Linked DNA regions of Homo sapiens. The protein of the gene in region 2 interacts with the protein of the main gene of each other region in a biochemical or structural test. Each region holds a gene or a part of one and is shown on either strand. Other genes may lie near its edges.

Evidence for each region.
Region 1: the proteins of FCHO2 (region 2) and EPS15L1 form a complex in vitro, tested with the Homo sapiens proteins (one study listed by BioGRID).

Annotation. Positions count from the first base shown.
Region 1 is NC_000019.10:16,460,679-16,471,868, forward strand, and holds part of EPS15L1 (epidermal growth factor receptor substrate 15-like 1), read right to left. Parts: intron 1-11,190.
Region 2 is NC_000005.10:72,950,026-72,961,832, forward strand, and holds the start of FCHO2 (F-BAR domain only protein 2), read left to right. Parts: upstream 1-6,015; 5' UTR 6,016-6,071; coding exon 6,072-6,104; intron 6,105-11,807. UniProt on the Homo sapiens protein: Functions in an early step of clathrin-mediated endocytosis. Has both a membrane binding/bending activity and the ability to recruit proteins essential to the formation of functional clathrin-coated pits.

The DNA.
Region 1 (11,190 bases), on a different chromosome or scaffold from region 2:
AAGCCAGCACGGGGGTGCCGCGGGCACAGAGCGTTCTAGTTCTCAGCAAAGAAAAAACTCAAAGGGAAGAACGTTTGCAAGAACATGCGCCTAGGCCAATCGTGTCTGGGACCCCCCAACCACAAACAGTGCCATTTGTAGGGTGTGGGGGGAATTGAGGGGGACAGTCCATCCCCATAACCGTACAGTCCTGGTTAAACACGCTCAGTGTGAGGGCCTCATCATCAAGTTTTTTCGTGTTTCATCTTTCCCCTTTGGAGAGTGTGAAATGAGATAGTTTTCTCTTCCACTGGAAAATATAAAATTGAAAAGCACGTCCTCTTCAGATTAAGAAAAGCCAGCTGGGGCCAGGCGCGGTGGCTCACGCCTGTAATCCCAGCACTTTGGGAGGCCGAGGCGGGCGGATCATGAGGTCAGGAGATCGAGACCATCCTGGCTAACACGGTGAAACCCCGTCTCTACTAAAAATACAAAAATTAGCCGGGCGTGGTGGCAGGCGCCTGTAGTCCCAGCTACTCAGGAGGCTGAGGCAGGAGAATGGCATGAACCCGGGAGACGGAGCTTGCAGTGAGCCGAGATTGCGCCACTGCACTCCAGCCTGGGCGACAGAGCAAGACTCCGTCTCTTAAAAAAAAAAAAAAAAAGAAAGAAAGAAAAGCCAGCTGGGCATAGTGGCTGACACATGCAATCCCAGCACTTTCGGAGGCCGAGGCAGGTGGATCGCTTTGAGCTCAGGAGTTCGAAACTGGCCTAGGCAACATGGAGAAACCCCATCTCTACAAAAAATACAAAAATTGGCAGGGTGTGGTGGCATACACGTGTGGTCCCAGCTACTCGGAGGGCTGAGGCTGGAAAATCACTTGAACCCAAGAGGCAAAGGTTGCGGTGAGCTGAGATCGCGCCACTGCACTCCAGCCTGGGTCACAGAGTGAGACTCTGTCTCAAAAAAAAGAAAGAAAGAAAGAAAGAAAAGCCAGTTTTCTACAGATTGGCGTAATGACAGAGGCACACTTGTTGATGTCACTTACACAAGAGGAAAGCCCTTTCCTCACCCTCTGATGAGCGGAGGTGAGGAGGTAGCAGGGCCCCAGCCCTGGTGGTGCCCTGACTGCTGTCACCGGCCAGTGGGCTCGAGCAGGCGGCTCTGGGCCCTGTGCCTGTTTCTTCACCCAAGAGACAAAACGTTCCCTTCTGTCAACTACCCTCAAAGACAGCTGGAGAGACAGACTGCGCTCCTGGCTGCTGTTCCAAGTACCCAGCCTCCAATCAACAGATATCACCAGCCTACTATGTGCCAGGAGCCCAGATTTCAGGGGCTGGGAACCCAGCAGGGAGCAGGAAAGACAGAGCTCCTCGACCCTCCCGGAGCCCATGGTGTGGCAATCATAGGACAAAATGGTGGCTTTGGAGCCCATGGTCTGATTCAGACGCCTGTTCTCCATGGGGGTCTGACCAGTTGTTTTACCTCTCTCCCTCTCAGTTTCCTCATCTAGAAACAAGCACAGGGACAATGGCACCATTGTTGGTCCCACAACATTCCCTCACTCCTGCATCAGACCTGTGCCCCAAATCTCTCCCCAGGGCCCAGAGCTGCCTGCCTGGGCCCACTCACTGGTGAGGGCAGTCAGGGTACCACCAGGGCTGGGGTCCCGTTGCCACCTGTTCTGGGAGACCAGGTTACCAGAATCAGGGAAGTGGGGGGGAGGGCATGGTGGCTCACACCTGTAATCCCAGCACTTTGGGGGGCCAAGGTGGGTGGATCACTAGAGGCCAGGAGTTCGAGACCAGCCTGGCCAACATGGTGAAACCCTGTCTCTACTAAAAATACAAAAATACAAAAAAATTAGCCAGGCTTGGTGGTGTGCACCTGTAATCCCAGCTACTTGGGAGGCTGAGGCAGAATTGCTTGAGCCCAGATGGCGGAAGCTGCAGTGAGCCAAGATCATGCCATTACACTCCAGCCTGGGTGACAAAGCGGGACTCCACCTCAAGAAAAAATAAAGTAAAACAAAGAATCAGGGAAGTGGGACTCTGAGAAGGCAGAGAGGGGGCCAGGAAGCTGTGAAGATGGTGGTGGGAGACAGGGCCTGTGCAAAGGGTGGGGGCAGGACACTGGTCCACGCAGTGTACAGCCAGTCAGAGAGGCTGCACCCAGCTGCTTCCTCCAGGCCTGTTGGAACAGAGGAGGGAAAAGACAAAAGGAGGCACAGGCGCCCTCTTCCTCCTGTCCTTTATTCCCAGCCCAGTGGAGGTGATTCATCCCACCGCTGTGGGTGCCACCTGACTTCCACGAGTGTGTCACACTATGTCCTAATTTTCTGTGTGCCTGGGTGCCCAGCTGCAGTTGAGCTGACCTGGAGGGTGGGGCTCGGTTTTATTTATCTTGGTCCCAAGACAGCACACAGTAGCTCAGCAGACAGAATCTCATGGTGCCCCAGCCCCAGAGCTGGTCTTCTTTTTGACTGTACCTAAATGTGGGGTCTCACGTGGCTTGGAGGGTTTCCTGCAAAGTGATGGGTTTTGACTCAACTGACACAGCCACAGCCCACCAGGCTCTGCCCACCAGGCACTCCCACTGCTGCTGTCCTGGCTCCCTGAAGGTGGCCTCAACCTGACGGTTGCAGACACTATGCCTGCTTCTTCCCCCTGCTTCCTCTCCCACCTAGACCCTCACCTGTCCAAACAGCTACCCCACATATTCCTTTCACCCCCAGCCCTTTCTACTCTTCCTGAAACAACCTCAGGCCAGGTTCCTCTTGATCACTTCATGCCCATATCACAGAGACTGTCTCGGAGCTAGAACCCAGCTCCAAGCACTCCCTGTGTAAGCAGCCAGATCATCTAAAGGTGTCACTCCTCAAGAACCTGCCATAGCTCCCTACTGCCTCTCATAATGTGGCCCATGCTACTCTTCCCTCAACAGATGATTGTTGAGCACCTGAGTGCCAGCTGCAGCCTGGCAAACAAGGATGAATAAAACAGGCACAGTCTCTGCCCTTGTGGACCTAGTCTAGGTGGTTGGGGAAGACAGACCATCAATCAACCCCGCAAAGAGAAAATTATAAACGGCTAAATGGAAAAGGTGTCCATCTCCACCAGTGGTAACAGAGATGCTGGGCCAGTTTGTCAGGAAAGGCTTCCCTGAGGAAGTGATGCCCCAGCTGATATGAAAAGGTGTAGGGATTCACCAGAGGATGAAGGGTTTGGAAAGAGCATTCCAGAGAGAGGGAATAGCAGATGCAAACGCCTTGAGGCAAGATGAAGGATCGCCTGCGCAGATGACAGAAAGAGGGGCCAGGGGGCCACAGAGCAGAGGGAATGAGGACTGCAGGCCTGGGAAACACGGGGAGCAGGTGTGCTGTCAGCTGCCGGTAGCAGCGCCTGATCCAGCCTGGCTGGTGTGCCCAAGAGGAGGAGAAGTGACTTTATGTCAGCCTGACCTGCAGGCAGTCAGTAAACAGATTCTGTTATCAGGTCTACATTCCACACCACAGGCAGTGCAGATGGAAATCCGAGACAAATGTCTGTGGTCATCTGTGACCTTTACTTTCACCCCAAAGCTTGTAGTATCAAGAGCTGGGACTCCTATGAAGGGAAAAGCCCAAAGAAGCTTTAAGAGCTAATGGTCTGCACTCCATGCAGGAGCAAACTTCAGGGCCACCACTCTGACCAGCGGTAAAACCCAGTCCAGCGCGAAGGACAGTGGGCAGGTCTCAGCTCCTCAGCCCCCACCAGCCACTGGCCACTCTCTCGGCAAGCAGACATCCTGTCAGTTCGGCCGATTTGTAGCCCAGACACAAACTCTCACGTCTTATTTACCAAAAGACCTTCCTCCTCTCATCCCTGAGCTGCCTAAATTAAAGGAAGGACATGAACCCCAAAGTCCCAGCCGCATGTTTTGGCCCTTTGACCTAGACCTGCAGCCTCTCAGCTCTGGCTCAGTCCTCTTTGCCTCCGTGTGAAAGGCTATTCCCCATGGCCTAGACCAGGGGTGTCCAATCTTTTGGCTTCCCTGGGCCACACTAGAATTGTCTTGGGCCACACATAAAATACACTAACACTAACACTAACACTAACACTAACACTAACACTAATGATAGCTGATGAGCTTTAAAAAATTCACGGGTGGGCATGGTGGCTCACGCCTGTAATCCCAGCACTTTGGGAGGCCAAGGCGGGCAGATCACAAGGTCAGATCGAGACCATCCTGCCTAACCAGTGAAACCCCGTCTCTACTAAAAATACAAAAAATTAGCCAGGTGTGGTGGCGGGTGCCTGTAGTCCCAGCTACGCAGGAGGCTGAGGCAGTAGAATGGCATGAACCCAGGAGGCGGAGCTTGCAGTGAGCCGAAATTGCACCACTGCACTCCAGCCTGGGCAACAGAGCGAGACTTAGTCTCAAAAAAAAAAAAAAAATTCACAAGAAAACCTCATAATGTTTTAGGAAAGTTTACAAATTTGTGTTGGGCTGCATTCAAAGCCATCCTGGGCCACATGCAGCCATGGGTTGGACAAGCTTGGCCTACACCAAACACGCCCTCTCCTCCATACAACCATGTCCAACACCCAAATGGAAGCCAGTCATCTGCCCCTCCTGCAGCTTGGACCACCCGTGACCTGAGCCTCTGCTGTGGGCCGGGCCTGGACAACTCAATTCTGCATGGGCCAGGAGCACTGATTACCACTCTGGCAGGGAAACCTTTGGATTCTCCTAAAGACAACTGGCTGGGAGTGGTGGCTCACACCTGTAATCTCAGCGCTTTGGAGGCAGAGGCAGGAGGATCACTTGAGGTCAGGAGTTCGAAACCAGCCTGGGCAACATAGCAAGATCCTGTCTCTACAAAAAAATTAAAAATTAGCCAGGTGTGGTGTTGCATGCCTGTAGTCTCAGTTCCTTGAGAGGCTGAGGTGGGAGGCTCACTTGAGGCCAAGAGTCGAGGCTGCAATGAGCTTTGATTGCACCACTGTACTCCAGCGTAGGCAATAGAGCAAGAGCCTGTCTCTAAAGGAAAAAGGAAGACAATAAGCAGGCCTTTCCATGTCCCTCTCTACCTTTTAATGAGATGAGATTAAAGTAATAAAATAAAAACTCAGACTACATGATATCTAATAACTAGGTATAAAAACAAATGAGGTTAGGAGATGTCATAAACTTAAAAACAAACAAACAAAAAAATAACTTTCCAAGACAAGAAACTATGGTGCAATGAAGAGGCCTGAACCTGTGTCAGAAAAGCCATGTCTGCCTGAGCTCACTGGGTACAAACTTGGGCAAGGGACGTAACAATCTCTGGCCTCACTTTATCTATTTTTTTTTTTTTTTTTTTTGAGACAGAGTCTTGCTCTGTCACCCAGGCTGGAGTACAGTGGTGCAATCTCGGCTCACTGCAACCTCCACCTCTCAGGTCCAAGCAATTCTCCTGCCTCAGCCTCCTGAGGAGCTGGGACTACAGGCATGTGCCACCACGCCTGGCTAATTTTTGTATTTTAGTAGAGACAGGGTTTCAGCATGTTGGCCAGGCTGGTCTTGAACTCTCGACCTCCAGTGATCTGCCCTTCCTGGCCTCCAGTGATCTGCCCCTCTTGCCCCTATACACTGAAGATAATACTGGCCAGAGTGACCGGGAGGATGAACCAGGCAATCTATGATGTTTTCTTTACTCAGTCCTTCCAGCCTGGTGGTGAGACCTTTCCTGACCTCCATCATCAGATCGGAACCTGCCCTGCTCTACTCATCTCACAGCATCAATCCCCACCGAATGCACTACACATTGGGCTCATTTCTTTATATCTGGGCCCCTCCCAACGATGTCAGCCCCGTGAGGCGGCACTGCCTTCAGATTCACTGTTCCATCCACTGCCCAGAAAGTGTCCAGCAAAAAGAAGATGCCAAATAAATACTCACTGAACGAACAGTGTGATCTACAAAAGGCAGGCATGAGGGCCAGGCGCGGTGCCTCCTGCCTGTAATCCCAGCACTTTGGGAGGCTGAGGCAGACAGATCACTTGAGGTCAGGAGTTCGAGACCAGCCTAGGCAACATAGTGAAACTCCATCTCTACTAAAAATACAAAAATTAGCTGGGTGTGGTAGTGGGCGCCTGTAATCCCAGCTACTCAGGAGGCTGAGACAGGAGAATCGCTTGAATCCAGGAGGCAGAGGTTGCAGTGAGCCAAGACAGCGCCATTGCACTCCATCCTGGGTGACAAGAGTGAAACTCTGTCTCAAAAAAAAAAAAAAAAGGAAAGCACTGAGAGCACATGCGTCACACGGCAGGGTCCTGACACTCTACTGTGACAAAGCAGGTCAAGCGAGTCCACAGTACCATTCTGCAGATGAGAAAACTAAGGTACAGAAAGTATTTGCAGGACTGAGGGCAGTGAAGGAATATCTGGGAATCCAAACAAACATCTAAGGACCTAAACATTGAAAAGCAGGCACCACTGCACCTGATGGTGCCTGCTTTTCTTTTCTTTTTTTTTTTTTTGAGACGTAGTGTCACTTTGTTGCCCAGGCTGGAGTGTGCAGTGGAGTGATCTTGGCTCACTGCAACCTCCGCCTCCTGGGTTCAAGTGATTCTCCTGCCTCAGGGTCCCGAGTGGCCGGGATTACAGGCGTCCGCCAGGACGCCAGGCTAATGTTTTGTATTTTTAGTAGAGATGAGGTTTCACCATGTTGGCCAGGCTGGTCTCAAACTCCTGACCTCAGGTGATCCACCTGCCTCAGCCTCCCAAAGTGCTAGGATTACAGGCGTCAGCCACTGCACCCGGCCTGGAAAGTTGTTTTAAAGTTCAGAATGGAGGTGGAGGGGTCTTGCCCAGGGAGAATCTATTTAGTCGAAAAAACAACAACAACAACAAAAACAAAAAAAAAACAGGCCAGTGCAGGTCAATAAGTGACAGTCAGGGAATTCTGGATCTTTCAGGAGTGGATTTTACTCTAAAACTTCGTTCTCATCAATTTAGACTGCATTGCCATTAGCATTCTACTAAGATAGACTAGCACTTATTTCAGAGGAAGAAAAGAAACAAGGGACAAGAGGACAAGTAAGTGTCCGAGCCACTCAGCATTCATTCCAGACACACTGGCCGGGTGCTGCTCTGGGAGAGGTGCCCAGCAGGCCATCTGGAACAGCAGGGCTCTGCGGCAGGAGGACGCAGGTGTGACCTCAGCTCTGCGCCCACCAACTATGAGACTTCAGCAAGTTACTCTATTTCTGTGGGTCTTGGTTTCCTCACTTGTAAAAGGGGAATAAAAGCCTCCTAGAATGGAGGCACCTACTGAAATACAGCAAAAGCTCCTGGATGAAGAACACATAACAAGGGGGAAAGGAGGAAGGTGTAGCTCTTTGGGCCCAGGGCAGTCTCTCCTCATCACTGAGCCCAGTTACCACGCGCTTCCTAGGTACAGCGGTCACAAAAGGGACCCACGGAAGGTACAAGGGAGAGAACTCTCATTCGGGTGGGGCTAAGGGAGGACAACACAGGGGAGGCCTCAAAGACCGTCCTTCAGGGCAGGCAGCATACGGCAGGAGCTCACAGTGATGTTCTAGCAACCGGAGCAACACAGCTAAGGATGCTGAGGCTAGAAAGTGTTGCCAAGAGCCAGAAGTGCAGGAAAGGGACCCAGCAAGGTTAGGTGGAGTCGATTCAGGGCTTACTAAGGTCATCAAAGCTGACTTTTTTTGAGACTGAGTCTCACCCTGTTGCCCAGGCTGGGGTGCAGTGGCGCGATCTCAGCTCACTGCAACCTCCGCCGCCTGGTTTCAAGCGATTCTTGTGCCTCAGCCTCCCAAGTTGCTGGGATTATAGGCGTTTGCCACTATGCCTGGCTAACTTTTGTATTTTTAGTACAGACAGGGTTTTGCTATGTTGGCCAGGCTGGTCTCGAGCTCCTGGCCTCAAGCAATCCATCCACCTCAGCCTCCTAAAGTGCTGGGATTATAGGCATGAGCCACAGCGCCCAGCCATAAACTGAGTTCTTTTGGAGGAAGGGGAATGGGAGCTGTGAAAGGTTTTTGGAACAGGGGAATATGTTTTAGAAGATGAATCCTAGCCAGATGCAGTGGCTGACACCGTAATTCCAATACTTTAGGAGGCTGAGATAGAAGGATTGCTTGAGGCTAGGGGTTTAAGACCTGCCTAGGCAGCATAGCAAGACTTCATCTCTTCAAAAAAAAAATTGTTTAATTAGCTGGGTATGATTGGTGCTGCGCTCCTGTAGTCCCAGCTACTTGAGAGGCCAAGGTGGGAGAATTGCTTGAGCCCAGGAGTTTGAGGTTGCAGTGAGCTATGATCCTACCACTGCACTCCAGCCTGGGGGACAGAGCGAGACCCTGTCTCAAAAATCAAAAAGATGACTTCCACAGTGGCGTGGGATTAAGTGGGAGGGAGTGGGCAAGTAGGAAGTAGAATGGCCCAGACCACTTTGGGGCATGGCAAGGAAATGGCCCATTCCAGAGTCCAGCAGGCTGGCAGAGGTGCAGGAGAGAGACACCTTCTGGACTCTAGAAGGCAGGTTTGAAGTCCTCTGCACAGAAGCTCCAGGGGAGGGAGCGCACAGAGAGATAAGATGCAGGTAGGGAGGCTGAAATTAGGGGACAAGAAGGAGAGACTGAAAGGAGAGAGGATGAAGAGTGAAGACCGACGGGCTCCAGTGTTGCGGAGTTCGAGGAGGATCGGCTGCAGCCACAGGGCACCGGGGTTAAGGACGGAGGGGCCACCGGTAACCTCGGGGAGTACAAGGAGGAAAGAGATCTGGATGCATTTCCACGGAAGGCTTTTTGGAAAGCAGAAGAGAGCTGAGCAGGGGGACAGGGAGACACACAAATCACTGAGATGCTGTTGGGAAAAAAAAATCACTCCTAAAGAGGCAGAGGTGCAGACCTTTCGAATTTACGTTGATATTCAGGGTCAGAAAAGAGTATATAAGGAAGGAGATTCTGAGATGATGTCATGGAGTACAGAACAGACTGAAAAAGATGCTGATGGGAAAAGTGCAGACAGGAGTGGGGGTGGAGAAAACACACCCCTCCTCCCCTAGGCTAGCCCGCTGGGTTATCCACTTTGCTCACCTTCACCTGGCCATCTGCTTGCCAAGTGTGCTCTGTCACCTAAATCCAACCAGATCACAGCCACCTGCTGCAGGGTGCTTCCCTTTTGCCCCCAACCAAAAATTTTGGAATTATACCCTTGGTTCCCCCAGAGTTATCTGTGAACCCAAGTGATCTCCTGAGCTAGACAGTAAGGGCCTGGGAGGGCCATGCCTCACACCTGGGCCAACAGTAACCCATGGTGTAGATTTTCACTCGAGAGCAAGTGTAAAGAAGTGCTGACATTTCCAAACGAAGAAAACCAGGCCACGCCTTCATTCAACAAATGTATAGGGAAAGGAACAGGAAGAGGCTAAGAAGTCAGTGACCTGGCCAGGCGCAGTGGCTAACGCCTGTAATCCCAGCACTTTGGGAGGCCAAGGCGGGTGGATCACTCGAGTTCAGGAGTTTGACACGAGCCTCGCCAAAATGGTGAAACCCCGTCTCCACTAAAAAAAAAATACAAAAATTAGCCGGGTGTGGTAGCACGTGCCTGTAGTCCCAGCTACTCAGGAGGCTGAGGCAGGAGAATCACTTGAACTCGGGAGGCGGAGGTTACAGTGAGCTGAGATCATGCCACTGCACTCCACCCTGGGTGACAGAGCAATACTCCATCTCAAAAAAAAAAAAATTGGACAGGAAGTTTTAGAAAGATCCACGCCTCCCAAACTGGGAGTGCTTAGTGCTTTCTCATGAAATGATCTTAGGTGATTTTCCCCCGACTCCCGCCTTCCCCGCCCCCCACCCCCTGACTACATACTCTAAACTGTAGCACTTAGCTATTAACACCTATTATCGGTAGGACACTTAACAGTTTACAGAGCACTTTCATGTCAGTAACAAGAACTTGCTAATTAATAATCACCGGGTTTTAGCACTGTTAACTTAGTGACAGTGTTGCAAATTGGCTAGCTGTGCACTTCTCTCTCCTTGGATCAGCTAACCAGTCATGCAAGCATGCAACCGGCCTATCAACTCTCTTTGGGTTTGGAATTCTTAATTGCTGCGGTCTCTACTCCCAAACGTCCAAATCTGGCAGAGATTAAATGATGACAGTAATTATAGGATCACTGAGTGCCTCTCATATGCTAGGCACTGTTCTAAGCGCTTTTTCACGTGCTTAATTTTCACATAATCCCAACACATTTTTATATCTCCATTTTCCAAAGGAAGCAACTGATGGGTGGAATGGCTAAGAGCTTCAACCAAAGGCACAGAGAAATCGGGGCTGGAGCCAAGATTTGAACACATGATCTGACCCTGTGTCCTCACTCTTAATCACCATGCTGTGCTAGATCATTCTAGCAAAATGCTTATATGGTGCTTTGCACAACACAGGTATTCAGCAAATAAAGGCAGCTGTGATTAGCATAACACAGGTAGTTTCTAGTTCCCACGAGTGTCACCTCCAGGAAAGCAGCGACCTTGTCTGTCTGGAAGAATGCAGCGCTCCCAGCACCTGACCCAACGCACATTTGAGGGATGGATAGAAAATGAATGAATGAAAGTCTCTCCCAAATAACAGAGCTGCCTACGCATGGCTCTTTTTCGCATGTCTGTGTCGCGCTATCGATACTGCCCCTTCATAAGCGCATCAGGCGAATTTGAGGACACAGAGAGGCGCCCGGAGACGTACGATCTGCGCCCGGTGCAGGGGTGGCGGAAGCAGCTTCCAAGGAGGCAGGGGATCAGTCTGAGATCGCACTGCTGCTGACGGGTCCGGGCTCCGGCGGGACCCTGCCCGCCCGGGCGCCGGGACCGGAGGGAGACAAAGACTCGCTGGGCCGCCGCGCCGACAGAAACGCTCGCACCCCTCGCCCACCCCTCCGGGATGCAGCCCAGCGCCTCCGCGGGTCCCCGGCCTGGGAGCTTCAGCGGCGGCAGGGTCCGGGCCCTGGGCGGAGAGGACACGCGCTGCGCACCTCCTCGCCTCGCCGGTGCCCGCGAGGGTCGCTCGGGCACGGGAGGCCGCGGGTCCCGGCCTGTCACCTTCAGGGCCGCCTGCCCACCCGCCCGCCGCAAGCCCTTCAGCACGCGCCGCCCCCGCCGCCGCCTGGCTGAGTCTCCCAGCGCCTCAGCCTCGCCGCACCGCTCGCCTCG
Region 2 (11,807 bases):
CTTTGTGGTTACGTTTTGGAACAGTGATTCATTAATTAATGCATTTAACAAATGTGTATTGCTTGCCAACTATGCGTCAGGCACTCTTCTATGCACATTATTGCTATAATTGCCATGATCTCTATCATCTTCATCATACGTCTATATTAGACTGTGAATTTCTCAAAGGCAGAGATGGCCAGGCATGGTGGCTCACACCTGTAATTCCAGCATTTTAGGAGGCCAAGACGAGAGGATTACTTGAGCCCAGGAGTTCAAGACCAGCCTGACAACATAGGGGGATGCCATCTCTACAAAAAATAAAAAATTAGGTGGGCATGGTGGTGTGCGCCTGTGGTCCCAGCTATTAGGGAAGCATAAGTAGGAAGGCTTGCTTGAGACCAGGAGGTTGAAGTTGCAGTGACTTACGATTGCGCCACTGTACTCCAGCCTGGACAACACAGCAAGACCCTGTCTCAAAAAAAAAAAGCAAGCAGAGACAATCTTTTCATTGTAACAAGTGCATAGTAAATGTCTACTGCCTGAATGAATGAAACAGAGGAGAGAGTTAATGAAAGACATTAAAGAAGATTAGGCCCAGTTACATTTATATTCAGACAAAAACATAGAACGATTGTTCTTTAAATTGTACAATGTTATTATATTAAATTTTAAATGTCTTCCATGTTTTACATTTGTCTATTTAACATACTTTTTTTTTTTTTTTTTACATATTTGTAATTTTTCTTTCTTTTTTTTTTTTTTGAGATGAAGTCTTGCTCCATTGCCCAGGCTGGAGTGCAGTGGCATGATGTCGGCTCATTGCAATCTCCTCCTCCCAGGTTCAAGCAATTCTCTTGCCTCAGCCTCCTGAGTAGCTGGGATTACACGCAGGCACCACCACGCCCAGCTAATTTTTGTATTTTTAGTAGAGATGGGGTTACACCATGTTGGTCAGGCTGGTCTCAAACTCCTGACCCTGTGATCCGCCCACCTCGGTCTCCCAAAGTGCTGGGATTACAGACGTGAGCCACCACACCTGGCCCATATTTGTAATTTTACAAATAAAATGTATGACTCAACATATTTGTAATTTGACACCTTCTGTCTTTCTACTTAACATTAATGACAAACATTTTTTAGTGTTTGTTTTGATTTTGGTTTTTGTTTGTTTGTTTGTTTTGAGACAGTGTCTCGCTCTCTTGCCCAGGCTGGAGTGCAATGGCACGATCTCATCTCACTGCAACCTCCACCTCCCGGGTTCAAGCAATTCTCCTGCCTCAGCCTCCCAAGTAGCTGGGATTACAGGCGCCTGCCACCACGCCTGGCTAATCTTTTGTATTTGTAGTAGAGATGGGGTTTTGCCATGTTAGCCAGGCTGGTCTCAAACTCCTGACCTCAGGTGATCCACCTGCCCTGACCTCCCAAAGTGCTGGAATCACAGGCGTGAGCCACTGTGCCCAGCCCTGAGTGTTTCTACATTATCATTATCTTCATGGCTTTCTGTAATTTAGTAATTTCTCTTATTTTTGAAGCATTGTTGGGTTCCCTGTGGTCACTAGCAATGCAGACCCTGGAACAACTGGTCAGGTGTTTGTGCTTCTTCCACAAATGACAAAATGAAGGAGCACCCGGGAAAGTACATCTCATTCTGGAGGAAGAGATGGCACCACATGAGGAGCAGGCAGGGAGTCAATCCCAGGTGCACTTAGGAGAGAAGAAAGGCACATCCACCTGGTAAGCCGCTCTGAAATGAGTAGCGTGCAGGGTGATGTTGAGCTCTATTCTGCAGTTCGATCAACATGCTTCTACCTCTCGGCCCTCACATAGCAGCCTGCCTGGCTGCCATCTGCCAAGCTTTTGCTTTCCTTTCTGTTTTGCATAAGGCTTTTGCTTTTAATATGCTGCTACTGAGTACAGAAAAACAAGAGCGTACCAGACTTCAGGGATCTGCCTGTTTCTTTTCTGCCTTTTAATAGAGCTTAGCTCTTTTGCCACTTGTTATTGTCAAGTACAACATGAGTTCAGAGAAAGAATACTGCACCTGACCGGGGATGGATGCCACGCCTTGAAGAAATTGGCAGGAAACAGAAGAGGTTTATAGGATCTTCTCTTCTGCCACTCCCATCTTGGAAACAAGTGGAAGTACATTTGCAAAATTATATTGAAAAAAATGAGAAAATGCATTTTTCTTTATAGTCAACCCTTCTGACATGGACCTAGTTTCAAATGAAGTTATGAGGAAATGGCCCTTATGACTAAATGTTGATTCATGTGCTGTGAGCTGTGAACCCAGGATGAGAAATGGGAGGAAATCAAACTAAGGAATGGAAAGGGGGAAGTGCTCTGGGTGCCTTGCCTAAGAGACTGAACCCTCAAATCTTGGAAATAAACCATATTTTGTAAACCAGATAATTTAGACTTAGGTTATTTTGTGTGTCTCTTATTTGGTATCATTTATCAAGTTATGTTTTAAAAGTCTATAGCTTTGGGCTATAACATATATGCTTAGGCCAGAGTTTAATGGGGATCAACAGCATCCCTGGAAGCCTATATCTCTTCAGCAGGTATCGAGAGAGATCCTAAGAGAAAGATGATTCTGGTAGCGGTGACACCCAAAAATCAAAGTCCAAATTGAGTAGGGGCTCCTTTCCAACAGGCAATCTCTTGCTACAGTAAATCTTGGATGTTATTTAAATTTTATTTTATTTTTATTTCACAAAGTACACTAAGGCCAGGTGTGGTGGCTCATGCCTGTAATCCCAGCACTTTGGGAGACCGAGGTGGGTGGATCACCTGAGGTCAGGAGTTCAAGACCAGCCTAGCCAACATGGTGAAATCCCGTCTCTACTGAAAATACAAAACTTAGCCAGGTGTGGTGGCGCATGCCTGTAGTTCCAGTTACTCTGGAGGCTGACGCAGGAGAATCACTTGAACCTGGGAGGCGGAGGTTGCAGTGAGTCAAGATTGCACCACTGCACTCCAGCCTGGGTGACAGAGCAAGACTCTGTCTCAAAAAAAAAAAAAAAAAAAAGTACTCTATCCTTTAAGAAGTACACTCAAGCCCACAAGAATTCTTTTGAATATATTTAAAGTAACATGAGAAAATTAAATAAAAAACTTAAATAATGATATTTTCTACAAACTCTAGGATCAAGCACCAATTAAAGAGGATGAGTAGGCTGGGCGCGGTGGCTTATGCCTGTAACCCCAGCACTTTGGGAGGCCCACACAGGCGGATCACTTGAGGTCAGGAGTTCGAGACCAGCCTGGCCAACGTGGTGAAACCCCGTGTCTACTAAAAATACACAAATTAGTCAGGCGTGGTGGTGGGCATGTGTAGTCCCAGCTGCTTGAGAGGCTGAGGCATGAGAATCGCTTGAACCTGGGAGGTGGAGGTTGCAGTGAGCTGAGATCGCACCACTGCACTCCAGTCTGGGCAACCAAGCGAGACTCTGTCTCAAAAAAAAAAAAAAAAAAGAGAATGTGTAAAAGATAATGGAATTATTACATATTCAAGGTCTCATCTACCTTGACATTTCTATGATAGATGTCATCATTCATTCATTCACTGAACATTTACTGACTCTTAAGTGACAGGTATTATAGGCAGTGACTTGTACACTGTTGTTATCTATGTTGGTTTTTAATAATTTCAAAATGAAATACATTTTGATAAGCAAAGTCTAAGAGAGTGTGGCACAAACACTTTAACGCATATAAGCTCGGTGGCTCATGCCTGTAACCCCACCCAGCACTACCCACTCAGGAGCTTATCTATGCTCTGCCAGAATGTATGTTCATCCCTGGAAACCTCACTTGAGAGTGCAGAAGGAGGCTGATACCATCCACGCTCTTCCTATACTACACAGTCTTGTCTGAAATTTAGTCACCTTAATCACTGTTTACTATAAAGTTCCACAACTTAAACATCAGGCAATTACAGGATATGGTGTTTCGGCCCTAATGAACCTTGCAAATACCTGAAATACTCAGAATACTTATTTTCATTCCAGATCTACTCCTAAATTTAAGGGGAGCAGAAGAATGCGAATGAAGGCCAGTAACTATTGTGAATACTATACTAAATTGTCTGTAGGTAATAGCCACACATTGGAACACTAACAAAAGGAAAATGTATGCTTGATACTACTGAGAAACAATACTTTGTCATGCAGGAATCTATAGCATTCAAGCTGAGATGAAGGATTTGACAAGTTAATTTGTCTTCTCTCTTACCTAAGCATTTCTGCTGCTCAAATTCTGACTCCAAAGCAGTCTCTGAAATGGGCAGCCATGCTATGTACAAATTTTCACTGCTTTTGGAGTTCACCGTTTGTTTTGAGGACAGAAGACAAAAGATAGGAAGAAGAGTTTTCCTGGGGCCTGAATAGTGTTCTTCACTGGGAGAGGGAATTTATGGTTATGAGCCAGTGTTCAGTATCAGATCACAAGCGGCAGGGGCACCTATTTTTTTTTAAATTAATGTGTGTGTGTGATATGTAAGTTCCTTTAAAGCATGGAGTCCAGGATAGAAGTCTCTCTTGCCCAGGTCTAAGGGTGCGGGGGGAAGGGGGGGGGCGCGGCGGTGGGAGGGAGTACTTTAGTGATACTAGGAATTTAATGCCAAATGTATTTGCTGTGTGACCTAGATGGCTGAATTTTTTAAAAAGTTCTTCAGCATCGAGAAAAATCCAGTTAGACCGATAGCTTAGAGAGCTGTAGCTTATTTCTAAATTTGACTTTCCCTAAAACTAAGTGTAAATGTCAGTGATATGAGGACTTTTTAAAGAAACAAAATAAAGAAACAAGATACACAAAAATAGAGCAACTATGGCCAATCTTGTTTCATCCCTTTTCATCTATGACCTTACTCATACCCCTATCCATAATAAATGACTTTCAGCAAATCCTAGATGTTCTGCATCCTATATCTTTCTAACAGATATTCTTAAAAAGTATGACCACAATACCATTATCCAATTATTCCTTGTTCAACAAGCACTTACAATTTCATCCATGTGAAAGGCACCTCATGATTTTTACTTGAGGATGAAGATAATTTCTCATGAATTCTCATTGTTTTAAGTCACCTGAAGAGGTGTGATATGCTACAATAAATCTATTTGTAGGGCTTGGCTTCAAGAACTGAAGATTCTGGACCTAGCTGATCTGGTGACAGTGAACTTGAGACCTCTAATAGCGTTTAACTATTTTTTTTTAACTTTTGGAAAGCAAGGTGTAGGAAGGGGATTTAGTTTTTCCATTAGGTCGTGGCATGTTAAGACTTGTTTCTTTTTCCAAAATGTTCAAGTTGCTGAAGAGAACTATGGACTATGGGTCAGGAAGTCCGTCGGTTTCGGGTCACATTCCGCTCCCGCAGGCCTGCGGGCCGCCCCAGCTGGTTTGTTCCCGGCGTGTTAGAGGTCAGAGGCCGAGGCCGCACTCAGTGCCTGGGTCTCGCGCAGCTCCAGGGCTCTCAGGCGACACTGGGCGTTTCCTTTCCGGCTTCGGAAAGTTTTGTTTTGGTTCAAGGAAAGGCGCCCTGTTGACCAAAGGCTTCTCAGTCTCCTCCGGGTGGCCAGCGGCCAAGTTTCCTCCAGCCCAGCGAGTCCAGACTATAGTCCGTTCGAGATCCTCGAAGGCCGGGGAAGCGAGTCTTGTGAGGAGAGAAAGCGAGTGGGCAGCCAGCCTGCCGACTCCACTGCCGCTGGCTGGCCCTTCTCTTCCCTCTGTCCCTGGGCCAGTGCCCGTCGCACCACAAACAGTGCGAGCAGTCTCCCCGGTGACTCCTCAAGGACCCAGTTCTCCACCATTCCTAAGAGAACACTCAACCCAGCCGCGCCCGGGATGCAGAGAGATCTACCAACACCCGAGAATGGGGACAGGGCGCATGCGCACACCGTGGCCGTGGCGTCTAAGTGCTCGCCCAGCTGCGGCAGCCGCTAGGTGGCGCATGCGCCCTGGAAGGTGCGGGCCGGTCTCTGGGAAGAAGGCGGCGGCGGCGAAAGGCGGGGGTGCTGTGGGGGCCGGGCCGTGTTTACACAGCGGCGGGCGGGCGCGGACGCGGAACCCGGCGCGGCGGCGGCACGATGGTCATGGCGTATTTCGTCGAGAATTTTTGGGTAAGCTTAGGATGTTGGAAGTCGTGTGTTTCGAAGTCCAAGGCTTTTGGCGCCTGAGCTTGGCCTGCGTGCGCTTCGGGCGGCGGCGGCGGCCCCTCCGGCAGGGCGAGCGTCCTCCTGCCGCGTCCCGCCTGGGTGAGGTCCGGCGGGCGACCGGTCGCCAGCCTATAGGGACTCCCGGGCTCGCAGCCCTATGGGGACGGGGGCTGTCACCGCGGCCCGGGGGCCCGCAGCGGGGCCGCCGGCCACCGGGGCTGGGACAAAGCGCCGGATGGGGCGGGAGACGGGACCCAGCCCCACCGGAGGCTCCCGGTGCCGCGCTCCGCGCGGGGCGTGCGCGGCAGCTCGGACGCGAAGGACGGGCCCGCGGCACAGCCGCCTCCCGCTGCGCGCTGGCTGGGAGCGCCGGGCGGTGGGGTTTTGCCTCCTGCCCTCACCGCGGGCCCCCCATCTGAGCGATCCCTTTTACCTCTGACGGTTTCCACACCAAATCCAGTGCGGGGTTGGGCTGGACTAGCACTTCCTCTCAGCCTCGCAGCTCGGCTCGTGGGTTTGCGCCCAGGACTTTGCCTCTGGGCCTGTTCACAAAGCGTTTAAAAGTTGGATTTAATGTAACTGGACTCCTTGGGCTTAAATGCATGGAGACCTCCCCCTACTCTGTGCTCCTTCCCCTTCCTCATTCTTTCCACCCCTTGTCTTAGCTCAGTATTAGATTCTTCTTTGAGAATTTCTCCGGCTCCCGGTGGAGTATTTTTCTGCAGTTATTGTTTTTTTTTTTGTAATGGGAAGTACAGTTCAGCCATGTACAGGAAAGGAACGTGTTTACTCAGGTATCTTTCGTGAATCCCATTTTATGCCCTGACAGTTGCAAGTACTGCAGGTCCATTTTCGTTGAGATTTAGACATATTTAAAGGGGTAATCTTTTAGCTAGTAAGGAATGTATGTTAAATTCTTAATTCTAAGTGCCTCAAGCATGGTCTTGGTTAGTAATCAGATCAGTTCATAGTTATTTATTTGTCTTGAATGTACCTTGTTTTCCACAAAGAACGTATATACTAGACCTTAGGTGTTTTGTTTTTTAAACAGCTTTATTGAGTTCACATTTCCGTACCAATACACTCATTTAAAGTGTAGTACAATTCAGAGGTTTTTTCATATGTTCATAGAGTTGTGTAAACATCACCATATCAGTTTTACAACAATTTCGTTATCCCAGAAAGAATCCCTAGACCCATTAGCAGTCACTCCCCATTTTCCCCCTGCCCCAGGCCTAGGCAACTAATGTATTTTCTGCCTCTCTGCATTTGTCTAGTCTGGACATATCCTATAAATGGGGCCATGGTGACCAGTTTCTTTCACTTAGCATAATGTTCTCAAAGTTTATCCATGATGTAGCATGTATCACTACTAATTCCTTTTTATGGTCAAATAATATTCCATTCCACATTTTATTAATATTTATCCAATCAGTGATGGACATCTGGTTGTTCCCACTTTTGGGTTATGAATAATGCTGCATGAACATTTTTGTACAAGTTTTTGTGTGAACATATGTTTTCATTTCTTTTGGGAATGGGATTCCTGGGTCAAATCGTAGCTCTATGTTTAACATTTTGAGGAACTGCCATACTATTCTGAAGTGGTTGTAGCATTTTACAATCCCACCAGCAATATCTGAGGGTTCCTCTCCACATGCTCACGAACACTTATTTGTCCTTTTTATTATAATATAGTGAGTGAACGTGAAGTAGTATTAATATTTTATTGTGGTTCGATTTGCGTTTCTTTGATGCTTAACATCACAGTTAATGTGCTTATTGCCTATTTTTATATTTTCTTTGGAGAAATGTCTATTTAGATTAATTGCCCATTTAAAAATTGGGTTGTCTTTTTTTATAATTGAGTTGTAAGAGTTTTTTTTTTTTTAATATTCTGGATACACACCTTATCTGATACATAATGTGCAAACATTTTCTCCCATTCTGTGGCCTGCCTTTTCATTTTCTTGATGCTGCTCTTTGAAGTAACTCATAAGTTTTTATTTCTCGTGAAGTCTTGGTGAAGTCCATCTTATCTATTTTTTTCTATTACTTGTGCTTTTATTGCATCTAACCCAAAAATTATTTGCCTAACCCAAAAATTACGCCTTTTTTCTTGTTTTCTTGTAAGGGTTTTATAGTTTTACTTCTTCTGTTTAGTTCTATGATCCATTTGAAGTTAATTTTTGTGTATGGTGCAAGGGAAAGGTATAACTTCATTCTTTTGCAATTGTGTATCCAGTTGTCCCAGTACCATTTGTTGAAAAGGTTCATCTTTCCCCGTTGAATTGTGGTACCATTGTCAAATATCAATCGACCAGAAATGTATGGATTCATTTCTGTATTTTCAATTCTATTCCATTGTCTTCCCTTACGACAGCCAGTAACACACAGTTTGGATTGCTGTTGTTTGGATTACAAATTTGTTTTGTATAGCAAATTTGGAATCAGGAAGTATGAGTCCTCTAGCTTTTTCCTTCTTTTTCAGGATTATTTTGACTGCCCTGGGTTCCTTGCATTTCCAGATGAATTTTAGGATTAGCCTGTCAATTTTAGGCATTAGGTTTTACAATGGCAATTTATAAAATGTTTTAAAGAGCATTTAAAAATTGATGCTCTTGTAAATGTTATGCATATTTTTGATGCATGAATGTTTTTTAAGTTGCTAACTTAATTCCAAATTGCATCTTCACATTAAAAGTTATGTTTCGTTTTCTGTTAATTGAGCTTTGAGCATAGCTTTGTTTGATGTTTTTGGCTAATATGAATAATACTTCTCTGAATATCTTTCTACACATTTTTATGTGCTTCTTGGGTATTCTTGTTACAAGAGGGATGGGAATAAACTTCAATATTTGAATTCTGGAGAGACCTCCAAATCTAATTTATGTTTTAGTTTTTGCCTTCACTTTCACTATTGAAAACAAATAGTTAATAGACTGCATTTTATTTTATTTCCTGGCTTGGAATTGGGGCTGTGAGGAGGCTCAGTGAGCTAGGAAGGTCTAGGAATTAACTAAATAATTAACTTCCGAGAATTTATAGTTGTCATTTTAGGCTGGGCATGGTGGTTCACTCCTGTAATCCCAGCACTTTGGGAGGCTGAGGCAGGGGAATGGATTGAGCCCAAGAATTGGAGACCAGCCTGGGCAACACAGTAGACCTTGTCTCTACAAAAAATTTTAAAAAATTAGCCAAGTGTGGTGGCATATGCCTGTAGTCCCAGCTACTTGGAAGGCTAAGGTAGGAGGATTGCTTGAGCCCAGGAGTTCAAGGTTGCAGTAGGTTATGATTGGTCACTGTACTCCAGCCTGGGCAACAGAGTGAGACCCTGTCTCAAAAACAGAAAACTAAAAATTCACATATTTCAGGATCATTTATAAAATAATCCCTTAAAATAGATATTAATTTAACTCTTCCCTCTAGCATTTAAAGTGGAACTATTAAAAGGAAATAAAATTGTCAAAATTCAAAACATCGTGCTCTATATGATAAATATATATGTTTTTCATCAATTAAAAGATAAAAACTTGTCAAAGTGAGGTAGTGAGAACCTTTGATGTTTTAGGTCTGTCTTGTCTTGTCTTCTCTTCTCTCTCTTCTCTTCTTTCTTTTTTTTTTTTTTTTCTGAATTGCAGTCTCACCGTGTTGCCTGGGCTGGCACGCAGTGGCACGAGCATGGCTCGCTGCAGCTTCAACCACCCAAGCTCAAATGATCCTCCCACCTCAGCCTTCCAAGTAGGTGCGACCACAGGTACAGGCCACCATGACCAGCTGGTTTTTAAATTATTTGTGGAGATGAGATCTCGCTATGTTGCCCAGGCTGGTCTCGAACTCCTGGGCTCAAGCCATGTTTCCGCCTCAGCTTCCCAAAGTGCTGGGATTAAAAGGCTGAGCCACTGTGCCCAGCCAAAGTTTTAGGTTTCTAATCAAACAACCTATTAATTGTTTTCTCCCCTACATGTATAAAGACAAACCTTTTTTGTTGTGACATTTCATTAGAAGAAAGTTTGAATCGTTGAAACTCTCTTCAAGCTCTTTTGAAAGCAGCACATTCTTCCTTTTTCTTTAAAGTATAGGTTTTCTCAATTGAAACTATATGCTAAATTGAAAATTCCTTTACTTAATACTGTACTTTGAAGGAAAAATTATTCAAAACCTTTTACAGAACAGGTGTTTTGTTATTGATAAGTCAGTTTTTGCCACGAAGTATAGCACCATTGATAATCAAGCTGAAATTGGACAGCAAAATTAAAATTGGACGCAAAAATAATTTTACTAGTAGAAATTCACACCATTGCTTTTAATATGTAAAAACAATTGTTTTTTATCTTTATTTTTACATATTAAACATTATGTAACTTTAAAAAGATATTATAAAAGATTATGTAACTTTAAAAAGATATTGATCAGTATTACAGTGAGGAAGTGTCTAAGCCGCTGCTTTCTCAAAGGAATAATTGAGTACAAGTTTATAATAGTCTTGAGATTATAACAACATTGCTATGTAATAATTAAAATGGCATTATATTTTTATGTAAACCCAGATTATTCAGCAAAAAAACCTTAATGCATTTCATAGGTAATTATTAATGGGGGACAAATAAGTATGTAAAACATACCTGAGTTGAATAGCTTATAATCTTCATTTTACAGAGTAATCCCAATCTATATACGATATGAAGCATTCACCCAAAGACACTAAGTAGTATTCTTTAGTATATATCACATTGTAATGAGCTGAGATTTTTAGTTAGGTGACTTTTTCCAGAGGTTATCTATAGTCAGCACATAAAAAATGAACAAACAACAATTAGGTATTTTTATCCTGAAGTTTTTCCTTATTTCTTTTACTGATTAACTGTACAGAAGTCTCATTTCACTTGATTTTATTGGTTTTGTTACATTTTGATTTAAAATTAAATTGAAACATTGGTTATATACCCAAAATTTGATTTATCATTACTTGGATAAGCTAAGAGAATTAAAATGTATTTTAAAATTCTGGAATTGCTATTAATAGGTCTTTGGGATAAAAAACATTATTATATTTTTGCTTGATTAATCTAAACTTAGTATCCTAGATGAGAGACTAACACACATTCTTTGGGGTTATGTATCCATATGAAATTTTAAAATATATATCTTTAGCAAATTAGTTTAGGTGACCATATTTGAAACCCAGAATAAAGGCTTTTCATTACTTGAAATTTCCAAATATTGTAGTTTGGGATACCTGTTTTTAGGATATGATCCCATCAGATGACATACCAAAACAAAATCTATATATCTGTATATATTTACTTTATACATTAAGAGATTTGCAAATTTTACATGGTTTAATATTTAAAAGGTATAAGAGGGAGTAAATCTTCTTTTTCTCTGGTAATCAAGATGTCCCTAAAGGCAATCACCATTACCAATTTCTTTCTTTTTTTTTTTTGAGACGGAGTTTCGCTCTTGTTGCCCAGGCTGGAGTGCAATGGCGCGATCTCAGCTCGCTGCAACCTCTGCCTCCCAGGTTCAAGCAATTCTCCTGCCTTAGCCTCCCTGGTAGCTGGGATTACCGGCATGCACCACCATGCCTGGCTAATTTTGTATTTTTAGTAGAGATGGGGATTCTCCATGTTGAGGCTGGTCTCGAACTCCTGACCTCAGGTGATC